Linked DNA regions of Homo sapiens: regions 1, 2 and 3 are each reported to be linked to region 4. Evidence: microRNA targets listed by miRTarBase, many of them from high-throughput screens and not tested one by one. Region 4 holds a microRNA gene; each other region holds the end of a gene's coding sequence.
The links. Region 4 holds the annotated microRNA hsa-miR-218-5p (UUGUGCUUGAUCUAACCAUGU, at 2,674-2,694, opposite strand). A microRNA usually pairs through its seed, bases 2 to 8, with sites in the 3' UTR of a target mRNA and lowers its output. Matches are read on the target gene's strand: a 7mer-m8 pairs with bases 2 to 8, a 7mer-A1 pairs with bases 2 to 7 and ends in A, and an 8mer does both.

Region 1: miRTarBase lists FKBP10 as a target of hsa-miR-218-5p. The part of its 3' UTR that is shown has no 7-base or 8-base seed match.
Region 2: miRTarBase lists BAG6 as a target of hsa-miR-218-5p. The part of its 3' UTR that is shown has no 7-base or 8-base seed match.
Region 3: the mRNA of CUX1 is a reported target of hsa-miR-218-5p. The part of its 3' UTR that is shown has no 7-base or 8-base seed match.

Annotation. Positions count from the first base shown.
Region 1 is chr17:41,821,981-41,826,044 of GRCh38, forward strand. FKBP10 (FKBP prolyl isomerase 10) reads left to right here. Exons shown (of 10, transcript NM_021939.4): 10 at 243-1,233. The coding sequence ends at 428. NT5C3B (5'-nucleotidase, cytosolic IIIB) reads right to left here. Exons shown (of 9, transcript NM_052935.5): 9 at 3,077-3,677. The coding sequence ends at 3,543. Among named protein-coding and RNA genes, the nearest start is that of FKBP10, 11 kb to the left of the region's middle. RefSeq lists enhancers at 1-16, 17-613.
Region 2 is chr6:31,635,780-31,639,843 of GRCh38, reverse strand. It overlaps BAG6 (BAG cochaperone 6), which reads left to right. Exons shown (of 26, transcript NM_001387994.1): 25 at 198-344; 26 at 618-816. The coding sequence ends at 713. It overlaps PRRC2A (proline rich coiled-coil 2A), which reads right to left. Exons shown (of 31, transcript NM_004638.4): 25 at 3,795-3,877; 26 at 3,425-3,635; 27 at 3,236-3,334; 28 at 2,899-3,111; 29 at 2,708-2,802; 30 at 2,520-2,610; 31 at 2,073-2,398. The coding sequence ends at 2,258. Among named protein-coding and RNA genes, the nearest start is that of MIR6832, 4.0 kb to the right of the region's middle.
Region 3 is chr7:102,248,306-102,252,369 of GRCh38, forward strand. CUX1 (cut like homeobox 1) reads left to right here. Exons shown (of 24, transcript NM_181552.4): 24 at 107-4,064. The coding sequence ends at 737. Among named protein-coding and RNA genes, the nearest start is that of SH2B2, 37 kb to the right of the region's middle.
Region 4 is chr5:168,765,538-168,769,601 of GRCh38, forward strand. It overlaps MIR218-2 (microRNA 218-2), which reads right to left and starts at 2,718; the gene lies at 2,609-2,718. The region is part of intron 14 of SLIT3 (slit guidance ligand 3); the gene reads right to left.

The DNA.
Region 1 (4,064 bases), not on the chromosome of region 4:
CACATGCAGGCTGTTCCCTACCTGAGACCAGTCACAGACTATCCCCATGCCACGCCTCCACCCCAGCCCCCACCAGGACCCCAGCACCAGTGCCTTTCCCAGCCCTTCCTGAGTTACAGGGTGCGGGGGAGCCTGGGAAAAAAGAAGAAAAAGAAAGCACTCACTGGCCTCCACCCGGGGCCCCTGCCCCTCCCAAGGCCATGACCCTCACTGCCCGCTCCCCCGGCTCTCCCCTGCCCCAGTTCTCCACCTTCATCAAGGCTCAAGTGAGTGAGGGCAAAGGACGCCTCATGCCTGGGCAGGACCCTGAGAAAACCATAGGAGACATGTTCCAGAACCAGGACCGCAACCAGGACGGCAAGATCACAGTCGACGAGCTCAAGCTGAAGTCAGATGAGGACGAGGAGCGGGTCCACGAGGAGCTCTGAGGGGCAGGGAGCCTGGCCAGGCCTGAGACACAGAGGCCCACTGCGAGGGGGACAGTGGCGGTGGGACTGACCTGCTGACAGTCACCCTCCCTCTGCTGGGATGAGGTCCAGGAGCCAACTAAAACAATGGCAGAGGAGACATCTCTGGTGTTCCCACCACCCTAGATGAAAATCCACAGCACAGACCTCTACCGTGTTTCTCTTCCATCCCTAAACCACTTCCTTAAAATGTTTGGATTTGCAAAGCCAATTTGGGGCCTGTGGAGCCTGGGGTTGGATAGGGCCATGGCTGGTCCCCCACCATACCTCCCCTCCACATCACTGACACAGCTGAGCTTGTTATCCATCTCCCCAAACTTTCTCTTTCTTTGTACTTCTTGTCATCCCCACTCCCAGCCCCTTTTCCTCTATGTGACAGCTCCCTAGGACCCCTCTGCCTTCCTCCCCAATCCTGACTGGCTCCTAGGGAAGGGGAAGGCTCCTGGAGGGCAGCCCTACCTCTCCCATGCCCTTTGCCCTCCTCCCTCGCCTCCAGTGGAGGCTGAGCTGACCCTGGGCTGCTGGAGGCCAGACTGGGCTGTAGTTAGCTTTTCATCCCTAAAGAAGGCTCCTTTCCCTAAGGAACCATAGAAGAGAGGAAGAAAACAAAGGGCATGTGTGAGGGAAGCTGCTTGGGTGGGTGTTAGGGCTATGAAATCTTGGATTTGGGGCTGAGGGGTGGGAGGGAGGGCAGAGCTCTGCACACTCAAAGGCTAAACTGGTGTCAGTCCTTTTTTCCTTTGTTCCAAATAAAAGATTAAACCAATGGCCTTAGGGTGTCTTTTGGACCAGGTTGAGGGGCAGGGGGGAATGGCTAGGGGATGAAGTGGGGATTGTGGGAGGCCTTTAGACCCAGAGATTGGGGAAAAAGTTAAACCAGGCTGTTTCCATGGCCTCATTAGCTCCAGACAGCATGTCCCCAGGTCAGGGGCTCCCCATCTGGAGGTTTCCTGCCTGCCCTGGGCCTAACCTGGGGTCTTCGCTGTGGGAAGGGAGCCCTGCTCTGTGGAGGGGGTGAATGTGTAAAGAGGGGAGGCCTCCAGCAGGGTGTGGAGAGATGATCCTCATCCTCCAATTGTCCCCATTGAATGGGAAAGACAAGGTCCCTGACCTCAAACACAACCTACAAAGTTCAAGGATTAAACCACACAAGTCAGATTATCCTTTCCCATAGATCATTTCCAATACTATGATATTCCCATCTCTCCCTGCTCCTGGCCACCACCTGTTACCACCTGCCCACCCTTCTCCCTCTTGCTAGGGGAAAGGTAATGGAGTTCAGATCTCCACAGTGTCTTGCAGGAGGACTTCAGCCACCAACCAGGCCATCTGTCCTCGCTTGCCTGGTATGACCCGAGCATTGTGAGGACGGGGTGGTGACTTAGGAAAGAAAATGACAGGACTGGACTCATACAGCAAACTGCCCCCATCAGCACTTCTTGCCCAGGGTCCCCTAAGAGACGTGACTGCTCCCCACGGGCAATGACCGACATTCTCTGGCCCCGAAGCATCCAGAAAGCTCCCTGATTGAAGTCTTTTTTTTTTTTTTTTTGAGACAGGGTCTCGCTCTGTCACCACAGCGCAGTGGTATGATCTCAGCTCACTGCAACCTCCGCCTGCCAGGTTCAAGTGATTCTCCTGCTTCAGCCTCCTGAGTAGCTGGGATTACAGGCACGGGCCACCAAGCCCGGCTAATTTTTGTATTTTTAGTAGAGACAGGGTCTTACCATGTTGGCCACACTAGTCTCAAACTCTTGACCTCAAGTGATCTGCCACCCTGGCCTCCCAGAGTGCTGGGATTACAGGCGTGAGCCACTGCGCCGGCCAAGAAAGCTCCTTGATTAAAGTCTGGAAGTGGTTACTAACCCAGCCTCAGATGGTGGCCACTCCCTCCTCCCAAAAACGAATGGAACAGGCCTGAAGCAGAGAAATGCAGCAAAACGCATGGGCTTTGGTCAGAAACATTCAAATCCTGGCTCCAGCTCCTAGCTATGGAGTTTGGGCAAGTTACCCATCCTGCCTGAGCCATCTGGAAGCAGGAGGAGCTGCACCTACTTGTGGGGTCATTGTGAGGGTCAACTGGCAGGCACCCAAGTGCCCAGAGTGGCACCTGGGACACCGCAGGCCTTCAGTAACATCTGTATTACCTCCCGCTTCACATCTGCAGAATAACAGAACTTTCCAACGGCTAGCCGAACACTGCAGGAAGGGTGCTGGTGATTTCCTCTAAGGCTAAGAAAATGCTGAACTGGCTCTTCAGGGTCGGCCCAATAACGCAAGACCACAGTGCACACATCACTTGTTTCACCTTGGCACAGTCTCCCTCAGGTCCCTGCTCTAAATTCCCCTTTTCAGGTCATCCACTTTAGTGGCCCCGACCCATAAGAGGAGGGGAAAGGAGAGCCTAGGGCATAGGGGGACAGCCACACACGAATGCATCCCCTCAGGGATCCCTAAAGAGGGGGCTCTCAGACAGGGTTGCCTCAACCCCACCGATCCCAAATGAATTTCAAGTTTGATGGCTGAATCAGAATAAAGTCAAACCACTATAGGCTAGAACATACCCTTTCAGCCCCACGCTGAACCAGACAGACACAATCAGGCTGTGCTCGGATGGGGTCTCAGGCCAATTTGTGGTGGTTCTCAAACTGTGTTCCTAGAAGCATCCCATGTGCCCCCAGGGCCAAGAGGTCCAGGTTCTACCCCCACCCACATCCCCTGAATCAGAGCAGCTTTTTTTTCATTTTAAAAATTTTGATCTGTTTCACACATTATATTTGTTTGAACTTCCCATGTTTAAAAATTTTGAAGAAAATCCCTGGAGTAGACAATCCCTAGAGCACTGACATGCTGTGGTCCAAGGTTCACCAGGAACAGTGCCTGTGCCCTGCCACATGGCGGGGTTCCTTCAAGCCTCTGGTGATGAAGGTGCTCAGGGAAAGGAGGACGGAGGGGCGCGGAAGGACCCAGCCACTGCTGGCCACCCTGGCCTCTGCTCTGTGTTCACGGGGGAGCAGACTCTGGGGAGGCGCCCCTCCTCACCACGGCCTGCAGGCCGGGCTGGAGCCTGCGCCTTCAGGGGCCTTGCATCTCCAGCTGGACCCCCTGGCACAGGATGTGCTGCAGTAGCCCGTTGACCACATCCAGAGTCTCGTCCTTCTCCAGCACGATGTCATAGGAGTCCATGTAGCGCTCCCGCCGCTCCTCCACCTGCCCGGAATGAGAGGCAGAAGCCAGAGGGTCCCCAAATGCCCTGCCCTCCGTAGCTCACTCTCAAAGCCCCTGGGGCTGGGGAGGAGAGCATTCAAGCAGCAACTCCCAGCTCCCTTTTGAGAGCCAAAGGAGTTCAAGGTTACCGGGCCTACCCTTTGGAGACAGACGAGGGATGGGCATGGGCTACCACAATTAACCCTTGGGTCAATACAAAAGAACAGTAACAAGGAATAAAAACAAAAAACCAGATGTTGCCACTTTGGGAGGCTGAGGCAGAAGGATCATCTGAGCCCAAGAGTTTGAGACCAGCCCAGGCAACATGGCAAAAGCCCATCTCTACAAAAATTGGCCGGGCATGGGGGTGGGTGCCTGTAGTCCCAGCTA
Region 2 (4,064 bases), not on the chromosome of region 4:
ACTTTAGTTTTGGCTAGTGCCAAAGAGAATTAGGAAGGCATTTCTGCTGTAAAAACCACATCCTGGACTCTTAATTTCCCCTCTCTCCACTAGCATGGAGACTCAGTGGAGTGGTTGACTCATGGAAAGGGTGAGCCGGATGGTGGCACTGGATCTGACGTTGATCCTCTTTTCCCTCCCAACCCCCTGTCCCCCAGACGATGCAGGGTGAGGGCCCCCAGCTGCTTCTCTCAGAGGCTGTGAGCCGGGCAGCTAAGGCAGCCGGAGCTCGGCCCCTGACGAGCCCCGAGAGCCTGAGCCGGGACCTGGAGGCACCAGAGGTTCAGGAGAGCTACAGGCAGCAGGTGCCACCTTGAAGCAGAATAGGGATGGTCTAGTGGGAGGGGTTGGGCTAGGGTCCCTCTTCCCTGGATCCCTTCAGCGATGAACTGGTCAGCCTGGTGCTACCATTTGTTTTCCCCTTTGGCATCTGGGAAGGCTTGACAGTGCCACCCCGGGCTATTTGACAGTGTGCTTGGGGGGGGAAATGTTAGCTTCTGAGGGATGGCCTTGTGTGCTTGCTGGGATCATGGGGACTTGGCCAGCGTTTCTCCAACCTGCTTACTTTTTCTCTTTAGCTCCGGTCTGATATACAAAAACGACTGCAGGAAGACCCCAACTACAGTCCCCAGCGCTTCCCCAATGCCCAGCGGGCCTTTGCTGATGATCCTTAGCTCTTTGCTCTATGGCCCTTCCTCATCAGGGGACCGTTTCCCCCCTCTTCCTTCACAGTATTTAAGAAATAAAAGTCGGATTTTTCTGGCTGCTTTCTCTCTACATTGTCTCCATTAGGTAGTGTGTCCCTTAATCTTGTGTGAACTTTTTTAAATTAATACTTCCTTGGAACACTGTTGTGTTCTACTCAGCACGCTAAATTGTACAAGCCAGTTTTGATGTTTGTTTTTTTTTTTTTTTGAGACAGAGTATTGCTGTCTCCCAGGCTGGAGTGCAGTGGCCCGATCTCGAGCTCGGCTCACTACAACCTCCACCTCCCGGGTTCAAGTGATTCTCACTCATGCCTCAGCCTCCTGAGTAGCTGGGACTACAGGCGTCCGCCACGACGCCCGGCTAATTTTTGTATTTTTAGTAGAGACAGGGTTTCACCATATTGGCCAGGCTGGTCTCGAACTCCTGACCTTGTGATCCACCCGCCTTGGCCTCCCAAAGTGCTGGAATTACAGGCGTGGGCCACCGCGCCCAGCCTGATGTTTGTATTTTTTGTGCGAAAGCACTTTATATATAAATAAAAAACCTGTATTTTGAGTTGGGAGCATATTCCAGGTGCACACTAGCATAGAGCTCTCAAATTACCCATCAAAAAAAGTTTCTGAGCAGCTGCAGACCTAAGTATAGTCTTTAGCATAACTAGCATGCAGCGTTACCATGTGAAATCCCACTTAGTTTGACAATGCTGGAATTGGTCTATCCAATTCAAAGAGCCCCTTAAGTGTGCTCCAACATTGAGGCCTTAACAGAGATTTCCCCTTAGTTCATCATAAAGAACTGAAGTCCCATGGCTGCAAATTCTTTGCTAGTCCCTTTGAGATGCAGTTGAAGTCCCTTCTAAACCCCCCCATCCCCTACCTTGGCTAGTTTAGTGCTCTTATCAACTAAGCATGGCATAAGCTTAGAAAATTCCAGCTAGACCTCTTGGAACATGAGCTCACGGACATTTAACAGGCCTGCTGGAGAGTCCATGTGAAGACACTGGTTGATAACCCAGTAATGTTACAGATGTCCCACCAAGGCCCTAGATATGCAAAGGAAGCCATATTGGGACCAGCCCAGGTGTCAGCTGCAGACTGATAACCAGTTGACCTCGCTCACTGGCACAAAAAAGCAGATTTATCCAGCTGAGCTCAGCCCAAATTCCAGACTCACAAAAATTTAAAGATCCAATACGATGGTCATGTTTTTAGTTTCAACAGCTCACTGGAATAAGTAATGAATATTTCCCTGACTGAAACTACAGATCACTCAGCACCATGCTTTAAGACAATGCAAACAACTCATCCCCCAAATCATTGTAGAAGTTTTTTTTTTTAAATCCTTTTATTACTCTTTTTTAACAAACAGCCCCAGGGACAGGGGACCAGGGGAAGGGGGAGGAGGGGAAGTGAGGCCCCAGCCCCAGAACCCCTCCCCGCCCACCCCTTTCCCCCTTATATATTTATAATCTATATACAAGCCCCGGGGGTAGGGGGCAAGAGGAACTCCCTCAGCGGGGTGGGGGCAACCCAGGCTCCTTGTCCCCTCGGGACCCAGGCTCCTCTGCCCGTCGGGAGGGCCCTTCTCGAGGTGGCGGCCCTGTCCGCTCCCAAGGCTTAGGTATCCAGCGCAGGGCATCTGGTGGGGAGGCCTAGGGGACAGGCATGTGTTAAACAGTGAGTCACAGTGAGAGGTCAGCGATGAGACGGAAGGACAGGAAATCAGGTGGCAACTCGAATTTAGAGTTGGGGCCACAAGGGTTTCTCCTTCACCTGCTGGTAAAGGTCGACGCGCTGGGTGCGGAAGACTCCACTGTAGGTGGAAGGCGTGGCCTTGAGACGGGAATTGAGGCCAGAGAAGGACCTAAGGGAAGAAGGGCGTCTAAGGCAAGCCTAGGATCCAGACCCTGGTTCCAAAGTAAGGAAGCACTTGGAAAGTCCACATCCCTATTCCGTTTCACCTTCCAGTTGGGGGAGTCCGTGATGATCCAGGTCCCCCAAGGTTGCTGCTCAGTTTTTGATAATCCTGGAACGGCTTTAGTTCCACTGGATGCAGCTGAGGGGAAAAAAATCATGAGCTGCCTACCTTGAAATACAGAATCCCTACTCCCAAGTCTTGGCGCTCCCTAGCCCCTCAGTTCCTGTACCTTACCTCTGCTCGCCCCAAGCTAGCGGGGAAGGGCCTGGCAGGTGAAGGCAGCACCCGAGTAGCAGGAGCAGGTGGGGGCCGCACAGCCAGGCTGGGGGGCTGCAGAGCAGGGCCCACAGGTAACAGAGAAAGGGGAGGTGGGGCAGGAGGTGGTGCTGGCGGCAGGGAGCCAAAGTTCACCACAGGCAGCTGTGAGTCTACCATGGGTAGAAGCATCTGTAACAAGAAATTTGGGTGTGCATGTTGGGGGCAGGGAGGAATGTCAGAAAACCAGGGAAAATCAAAGCCAGCAACTGGACAGAGAAATCAAATGAAGGGGAAGTGTGAAGATACAATATACCTGCTGGGCAGGAGCCCCTGAAGGGAGAAAGCCACTTTGGCCACCAGGCTGCAGAGGAGTAGAATAAAAATCCGAAGGGGATGGCAGATCCTGGCGTACCTGTCGGGAAACAGGGAGAAATATATCAACCCCCACAAAATCATTCTCCCTACCCTATCCCCCAATATCTAATACCTGCCCCCCTCTTACCTGAAGCAACGATGTGTCAGGCAAAGGACTGGGGCAGAAAGCCGGAGAGTAGAGGAAGGAAGGTGGAGGGTAGAGAACTCCTCCAGCCGGCAACTTCCCCAGCTCTGTAGCTTGCATTGTGGAGAAATCCAGAAACTGGCCCTTGAGAGCTAACCCAGAGAGCAGTGCTGAGGGAGGGGCTGGGCCGGGGGGTAGGTATAGGGGCTGTGATCTGAAAATAAATTGTGGGGAGAAAAGCTGTTAGGAAGCCAGAGTCCTAGCAATGCCTTAAGTCCACTAGCTTCTAGTACCCTAGAACTGTGTCTTCCCCTTCCCTCTCCCCGAAACACATCTCCAAGTACTTCTGTGATCCACAGGCATCGAGTCTTACCTGTAAGGGTGCAGTGAGGGTGTCCCAGGGCGGAAGCCTCCACTGTTTGGATGTAATTGAGAGTCCATGGCTCCCCCAGAGATCTGCAGGAGAGGAGCACGGTTGAAACAGCTTTAGTATCTGTGGTCAAGAAAAAAGATCACCATCCCACCCATAGAAGCAAAAAGTAGGGAGAAAAATGATGTGACAAAGTGGTATCTCACAACTCTGCAACGTAGAAAGGCTTGATTATAAATACATACCAGGCAGAAAAAAATTATTATTCACTGA
Region 3 (4,064 bases), not on the chromosome of region 4:
CTGGACGGAGCAGGAGCCCCAGAGAGAGGGGTCTGGCTGGGGTAGCACCAGAGGCCCTTTCCCCAGCAGCACCCCCCTCACGTCCCCGCCGCTTGTTGTCTTGTAGGTCTCGGATCCGCAGAGAACTGTTCATTGAGGAAATTCAGGCCGGGAGTCAGGGCCAGGCGGGCGCCAGCGACTCACCCTCGGCCCGCAGCGGCCGGGCGGCGCCCAGCTCGGAGGGCGACAGCTGCGACGGCGTGGAGGCCACTGAGGGCCCAGGCAGCGCCGACACCGAGGAGCCCAAGTCTCAGGGAGAGGCCGAGCGGGAGGAGGTGCCGCGGCCGGCGGAGCAGACGGAGCCGCCGCCCTCGGGGACCCCGGGCCCGGACGACGCCCGCGACGACGACCACGAGGGAGGCCCCGTGGAAGGCCCGGGGCCCCTGCCCAGCCCCGCCTCCGCGACCGCCACCGCCGCGCCCGCGGCCCCCGAGGACGCCGCTACCTCAGCCGCCGCCGCGCCGGGGGAGGGCCCCGCGGCCCCGAGCTCCGCGCCGCCGCCCAGCAACAGCAGCAGCAGCAGCGCCCCCCGCAGGCCCAGCTCGCTGCAGAGCCTTTTCGGCCTCCCCGAGGCCGCGGGCGCCCGGGACTCGCGCGACAACCCCCTGCGCAAGAAGAAGGCCGCGAACTTGAACAGCATCATCCACCGCCTGGAGAAGGCCGCCAGCCGGGAGGAACCTATCGAATGGGAGTTCTGAGGGGCCGCGGCCCTGGGGCGGGCAGCCAGGCTGGGCCGCAAGGGCCTGGACGGGGTCGGACGGGGCAGGCGCTGCGGACACCGTGGCCTGGGCTTGGCCCGCGGCCTGCACCGACCCCGGGCCGGACCTGAGCCCGCAGCCCAGACCCCCTCCACGGTCCGCGGCCTGCACCGACCCGAGGCCCAGATCCAAGGCCGCGGCCCAGACCCACTCTGCGGCCCGGGCCGACCCTGCGGCCTCCACCAACCCCGCGGCCCAGACCCAGCCCGCGGCCTGGACCCCTGGACCGCTTTGCGCACTTACCGCCCTGCGGGCCACAGGGCAAAATCGCCATAGGCCAAGGTGCATATAGAAAACAAAGGAGCATTAAGCCCAATCTATGTCGTGTTTTCAAGGAAGAAAACGGAAATGTGTGGTCGAGCTTTTTTGTACCCTGAAGTGTTTTTTTTATTGCCCTAAGTGATTTCCACAGGTTCTGGAATAACTCTTACAGCTTTGCCTTGTGTCCTCCTGTTCCGTGTGGGCTTTAAAAGAAAAAAAATCAAACCCACATATTAAAAGGGGGCTTTTTATCTGCCATCTAATGGCTTCAGAGCGATAATACACTATTATCTTCTTAAACCAGGAAAAAATAAAAGGGGGGGTGGGATTTTTCAGAAAAATTAAAAAAGAAAGTTTTTGTAGCTGTTCAGTTGCCACTAAGAGATTGCACAGTCAAAACGACTCTAAACACACTAGTTTGGATTCCTAAATATTTTCAAGAAAAGAATCTTCTCGTTTGAAACTTTGAATTAAAATAAAACACATTTACTCCACATATTTTTTAACAAAAAGAAAACGTCACATCAGGAAACTCTGATTTTGTGGTAGCTGACATAGTGTTTTCTTGTACGTGAATAGAATCCTGACATGTAGTGCACATTGATGTATAGCTTTAACTGACCCTGGGTTTTGCAGACCAGGGTTTGTTTAATACACTCCATTCTAGGCCAAATCAGGACAAAAAAAAGAAAAAAAAAGAAAAAAAAAAAAGAAAAGATCCGAATCTAGGTATTTTATAATCTGCTTTTTAACCTCTAACCGCAGAGCACGCTGATCAGACCTCATATCTTGGAGGTTTAGGAGACAAGTTAGAACTGTAGCATGTACCTGTTAATTTTGTTTAATTTATGGTGTCTCAATCTGTCTGTGCGTCTGCACGTGTGCAAGCATTGAAAGAAAGGAGAGAGTAGTCCGGGCGAGCACAGCAGGCAGTTCCAGGGCCAGACGGGCCCATCCCCAAGTAGATAGCAGTCTACGGATCTCTCTCTGGCACAGAAGGCACCTCACCTCACACCACTCTCCTGGATACCTGATGAACTGAGCCCTCCCAGGGGAAGACACTCCCCAGGCCTGGGCAGGGCTTACACGCGCACTCTCTCTCTTCTTTCCCTTTTTCTTCCCACCGCAAGCACTGATGACCCTGTTGAACTCGTGGGAAACTTCCTTTCTCTGCAGGAGAGAGAACGTGGCATTCTGGGCTCCCCACTCCCATCCCTGTAGAAATGGCCCAAACTCACACCAAAACGTGGATGCTCTTCAACTTCCAAACCTACCATTTGCCCTTCTTTCATTTCGCCTCTTAGTTCTTTTTATGCACAGTTTTAGGGCAGTCTAAGTACAAACTGAAAGTCTAACTTGTCTCTGATTCCTCCCTTGTCTATGTGTATATGCGTGAGAATAGAGGCGGGTGAGAGTGTGCGTGCGTGTGCGTGTGTGCAATTTTATACGTCTGTGTATTTTCTTAAGTACCTGTGCACACGTAGAGTGCATTACTGCCACCTTTTTCAATAAGCTGTTTTATCAGTTACGGCTTCTACAAGTTTGCTAATTTAGACTTCTTTATTGCCATATCTTTAAACTAACAATAGATGATTTCGGTATATATATATATTTTTTTTTGCTTATTTATAGGTGCTGTATTTTATTATCTGATTGTTAGGAAGGGATGAAAGGGGCAAATATTCTTTAGAGGGATAGACTGCCGGCAGTATTGGGTATAATTTACAAGATGTAGTTGTCATACTGTATATTACTGATTGAAAACTTTTTGACCGTATTGTGTATCATTGAAACCTTTGTCTTAGGTCAACATCTTTGGATGACATTTTAATGGTGCATTCATTATTTCTTAAGTTTAATTAATATTACTTTTTTTTTTATTTGGGGGGTGGGAGGGAGTTATAATTTTAAAGGTATGCTCTGGCTGTTCCACCTCCGTGTGCTTGTTAATTAACTTGTAGGACTTTGACTGTAAGATGTGAAACCACGTTTCTTGCATGATGTTTTAGAGATTATTTCATTTACAGTCTTTTAACCTGCAGCTGCAGCACTTAGTTCACGTTTTCACAAATTTCAAGAGTCACTACACTAAAGACAATGCCTTTTCATGAATAAGAAGTTTTCAGAAGGCTCTAGGGGGCTGGGAGGCAGGCTGTTCGTTTGTCTTTTGTTGGGGGTATCATTTCTGAACTTGAAATCCAGTTCAGGGAGAAGAGAATTCAAAATTAGAGGAGCTTAAGGGGACACGGGTCAACATCTAGCTCGATTCAGGTGCATTGAGAAGAGTGAGTTCACATCGGTGACCCTTAGGACAGTGAGTGGCAGAGCCCTGACGACTGTGGTGTCCTCTCCACAAAACCCTCAAGGGACTTTTGTCATCATGTGTGATGAATCTTTAAATATCGTCTAATTTTCATAAGAATGAAAAGAAGTTAACAGGAAATAGTAGGCTAGGGTTTAGTTTTAAAGGCATGACTGTTATTTACAAAGGTGTTAAATCTGAGGAAATTGACAAATACAGATTTGTCCATTCTAGTGGCCAAACAGTAACAGTCTAAAATGCAGTCATTTTGACCCTCCCAAGCAATTTAGTCATATGTGTTGTTTTCTCTTTTCTGTTTTTACTTCTTAGATTTTTAACTAGGTTACTGTTGGTTCCCATTCTGTCTTTTTTGCCAGACTTACATCTGGTGCCAGATACAATCAGTTGGTTAAATTTTGCTTGCAGTTCTGTGTATTTTTTTTCCTCTATTATTTATTTTTTTAAAAAAAATAGAGATCCTAACCTTAGATCTTTGATGTGAAGCTAGCACTGTCTGTAATACTTCTAAGAGCTGCCACTAAAATAATACAGCAATCCGTGGCCAGGGGAGCACCCCCTCCTGGTTGGGCCCCTCAGTTGGAGTCTAAGGGTTAATCTCTCATCTTGCTAAGCAGTATTCAAGTGCCTTGAACAGTGTCCCCTCGGCATGGCTCCCCTTCAGCAGGCTGGCATTCCAAGCAGTG
Region 4 (4,064 bases):
TATTTCATTACCGAAACTACTCAGGGTTTCTCAGAGCCATTTGTTATGCCTAATGCTCATAACTACCCCAAAGTATTTTTAACTTTTCCAGAGCTTTAAAAGTCAATTTCAATCTCAGTGCATATTTGTCACTGCCAGAAATACTTAGTAATAGAGGACCGACTGCAATAGGCTGTTGCTTCTTCTCTTTGGGGTGAGTTCAGACAGAAGAGATCCCAGAGGATTTGAAGAAGGGCCATAAAACTCAACCTCGGCTGAAACCAGCCTTGGAAGAGCTGATGTCATCTGGCATCTTGCCTGCTCCTGCCCCTGGAGCCCTCCTCCCCTTTCGCGGGCAGCTCAGAACAACGACACTTGGTACGTGATCACAGACAAGCTTTAATAGACGGGGGGGTGGGGGTAGGAGGTGGAAATTACAGCAACACAATTTTATTATACATCCCTGTCCTACAGCCACTTCCCAGGAGGAACACTTGTCACATTTGGATGACCAGGGGTGTGGGACAGGTAGGGAGCCAAGCTCCCATGTTTGAATGGACTTGGCTGGGTTGGGATCAGAGGCCAGCACCAGGTCCAGGATGGCTGCTGCCATCAACGGTATGCATTTTGTATCATCCTTTGGGCAGCCAGTTTGCTGACTGGGAGTCATAAATTCATTGTTATCTGATCATCATGGACTTGCTAACTCATGTTTCCAGAGCTCTCCTCCCCTATTCCCAATATCCCTAAGATGAGTGGAATAAAAGAAAGGAGGAAAGAAGCAGAAAGAGGAATTGGGGGGAGCGTAAGTCCTGTCAGGCCTCATCAGCTTGAAAAGACAGTGATGTGAATAAGCAAAGGGTCATAAGTGATGAATGACTAAGGAGAACACTGCCAGGCACACAGACATCCACTCATGGGCAAGGCTGGGGGACCAGCTGCCAGTGGCTGGAAGATGCCAACTGTTTTACTAGGAGTTTGGTCACCAGTTGGGCAGGGAGCCGTCCTAGTAAGCTATCCCCTTTGGAGTCTATTATGAGTGCAGCCATCTGCCTGAAAACAGAGGGAAATACCCATGGTCTGAGGCTGGCACTGCCTCATCACAGCCTGTGGCTGCGGGGCCAGTAAAGCACTGATGGAAGGGCACCATTATGGACCCACTCCCAGAGGCCTGGTCCCTGCCATGTTAGGGGCAGTGCCGAGGGCCTCAGAATGCCCCTCTCTGTAAGGTGGGAAAGGGAACTTCTCCAGGCTCGAGGATTTGCTCTGTGTTAAATGGGATCTTTGTATGTCCATGCTGGAGAGGAACAGCCATTTGAATAATGCTTTCTCTCTTACTCAAGTTCTTTCTACTAACAGATGAAAGTCTGAAAGGGAGAGTTTAAGCAAATTTCAAGTCCCTATCAAATCACAGTTTTTAAATGTTCTAATTCAAGGCAATGGGGTTGTCCACAGCTGGGAAGGTGGGTATTACAGCAGTACAGTGCAGCCATTCTGGAATCAGATGACCCTGGGTAAGTTAGCTAACCTCTCTGAGCCTCAATATCCTCATCTGTAAAGTGGGACTTTAGATTTTGTGAACATTAAACAAGGTAATGATGTGAAAACAGTTCACTGCCTGGCCTATAGCAAGCACTCAATGTATGTTAAAAAACTACTAAGCAATGGTTGGGCTCCTGGTTCTGAGGGGTAACCTCAGATAGACGAGGTAATAAGAGTCACACCTCATGATGGGGGCCCAGGGCTCAGCTTCTAGTTCTGAGCTAGGCTAAAGTTCCCACCTTAGCTCTCTCTTGCAGAATAGGACAAAGACTCCAGGACAGGAATGAACAACACAGTCTTCTGGTTACACTGGGTCTAGGATTTATCAAGGAACAAGCAAAATAAGAGGTACCAAGATCCCTCTCTTTATTATCAGAGATAGCAGGTTTCCACGTCCACACACACTCCCCTCCCCTGAAACAGAATTAGCACCAGGTGAGGAGCCCAGCACCTCCACGTTAACTGTGCTTTGCAGGTCAAGGAAACAGACTGGACTTTAGGTTTCATGGGGTTCAGGGACTGTGTTTTCATAAAGTATGGGAATGAGGTTCAGAAGGAACCTTGGGTTAAACCCAAAGTCTCAGACTCACATGAGTTTCACCCATTCTCATGCTGACGTTCATTTCAAATAAAGTGAATACCAATAAAGGTGGTGGTGGGAGGGGTCGGGGGTCACAAGCAGTAGGAATTCCCCTTTGGGTTAGCTGCCACTTGGAAAAATGACCTTGGGTTGGGACTCTCCCATGAAACCATGGGGCGTATGCCTTGGGTATACTTGTTCCCTTCCAGTGGAAGAAGAGACACAGTAGTTTCTGAGCTTGAACCTAGTTATTACTCCTTGTCTGACATCCAGACTAGATTTGGGGGAGGGTGACTCCATTTTGGGAAAGAGATGTGGATACAGATCTCTTTCCCCAGGGTGCTTCTCCAGACCCATTTCCCTCTGTATCTGCATCCTTTGAGACTCCTACCCTCCTGCCTTTGGTGAGTTGAGACTGGGAGAGGTGGGTCTGGCAGGTGGTGGGCTGCGGTGCTCCAGAGCAGAGGAGAGGTGTCCAGCGGTGGTGGCGGCGGTGGCGGGCCATGCTGCAGGAGAGCACGGTGCTTTCCGCGGTGCTTGACAGAACCATGTTCCGTTTCCATCGTTCCACCACATGGTTAGATCAAGCACAAAGGAAAGCCCCGCAGCGACTGGTCAGAGTCAAGGTCAGGAAGCAGCGTCAGAGAGAGGACAGGAGCGCTCAGAGGAAGCAGCGTGGAGAAGCGGAAGCCGGAGCAGGCCCCCACTGAGCGTGATTAGTATCAGGAGTGGGGTTCCACTGGAACACTTCCGAAGATTGCAGCCCTGCTGCCCTTGTGCCCCACCCCAGGGAGACACAGTAGGAAGGGAGAAGAACGGGAGGGAAATCACTGGATGCCCATACTCGGGAGCTTCAGGACAGCATGGTTCCTTCCCAAGGAAAGAAAGAACACTCAGACATCTGTGATCCTATCACATGCCTGAATTGAGCCTCTAAACTCCATTCAGTCACACCAGTTGGTCTGACAAGACATTAAACTTAGAAAAGCATCTTCTGCATGCTTTGCAACATAGGCCCAATCCCCCCAACAGCTGAGTGGTTCCATCACAGTCATTCCTCTAGCCCCTTAAGTCAAGAGACAATCCACAGTTCCCAGTGGTCTAGCAAACCTTCAATGCTGTTCTTTAGGAAAAAGCCCCCTTTGACATTCCACAATTCAGGAGTCTCCTTTATATCCTTTGAGGTCAGCAGGAATGCTCTGGCTGATAGACACTCATCCCAGATCATTTGAGGTTTAATAGAGGAGCAGTGGGGTGTCAAAAGAAAATATATCTCTCTAGCCAGAGAGAAAGACAGGAAAACAAATGGGGCCGTAGGGTTTGGACTGAGGAACCTGCAATCATAGTTGTTGTTTGAGAACACTGACTTTCACAGAGATGGTGGCCAGTGCGCCTCCTGATGAAGGGCCTCTTTGAGACTAAGAGAAGGAAGGAAAGGGAAGCCAAGTGATGAGTCTGAGGGGAAGACACTGAATTCTGGGGTCCTTCTTGATTTCTTGTTCTCTTCCTTAGCTGGAAATTATGGGAGCGAACAGGATGAACCAATAACCACTGTCAGGATGCCAAAGGCCCAGGTGAGGGTACCCAGTTTTTATATTCCTCTCTGTGATAGATCAGGGTCAGTTTCCATGAACCTGCTGACTTGGGACTTCCTCCCACTTGGCATTAGGCTGGAGATGTGCATCTTGAAGAAACTGGAGCTAAGGCTAAGTGACTGAGACCCTCCCTGCCTGACCTCTGACATGAGAACCAGTATCAACATTCTTCCACTATGTGTTTTTGGGACTGGGCATATCCTCTAGATGGTCTCAGCATCTCAACGGTGCATAGGTTGTCTGCCATGTTGGACCAGTTAGGAAGAGCCAGCCCACAGCTCTGGGTCTGTCTGGCCTCTCCTCCTTCCTAAGGTCTCTCATCACACGCACTAGAGTCAGCCACTAGAATCTGGACTCCACTCTGCTTT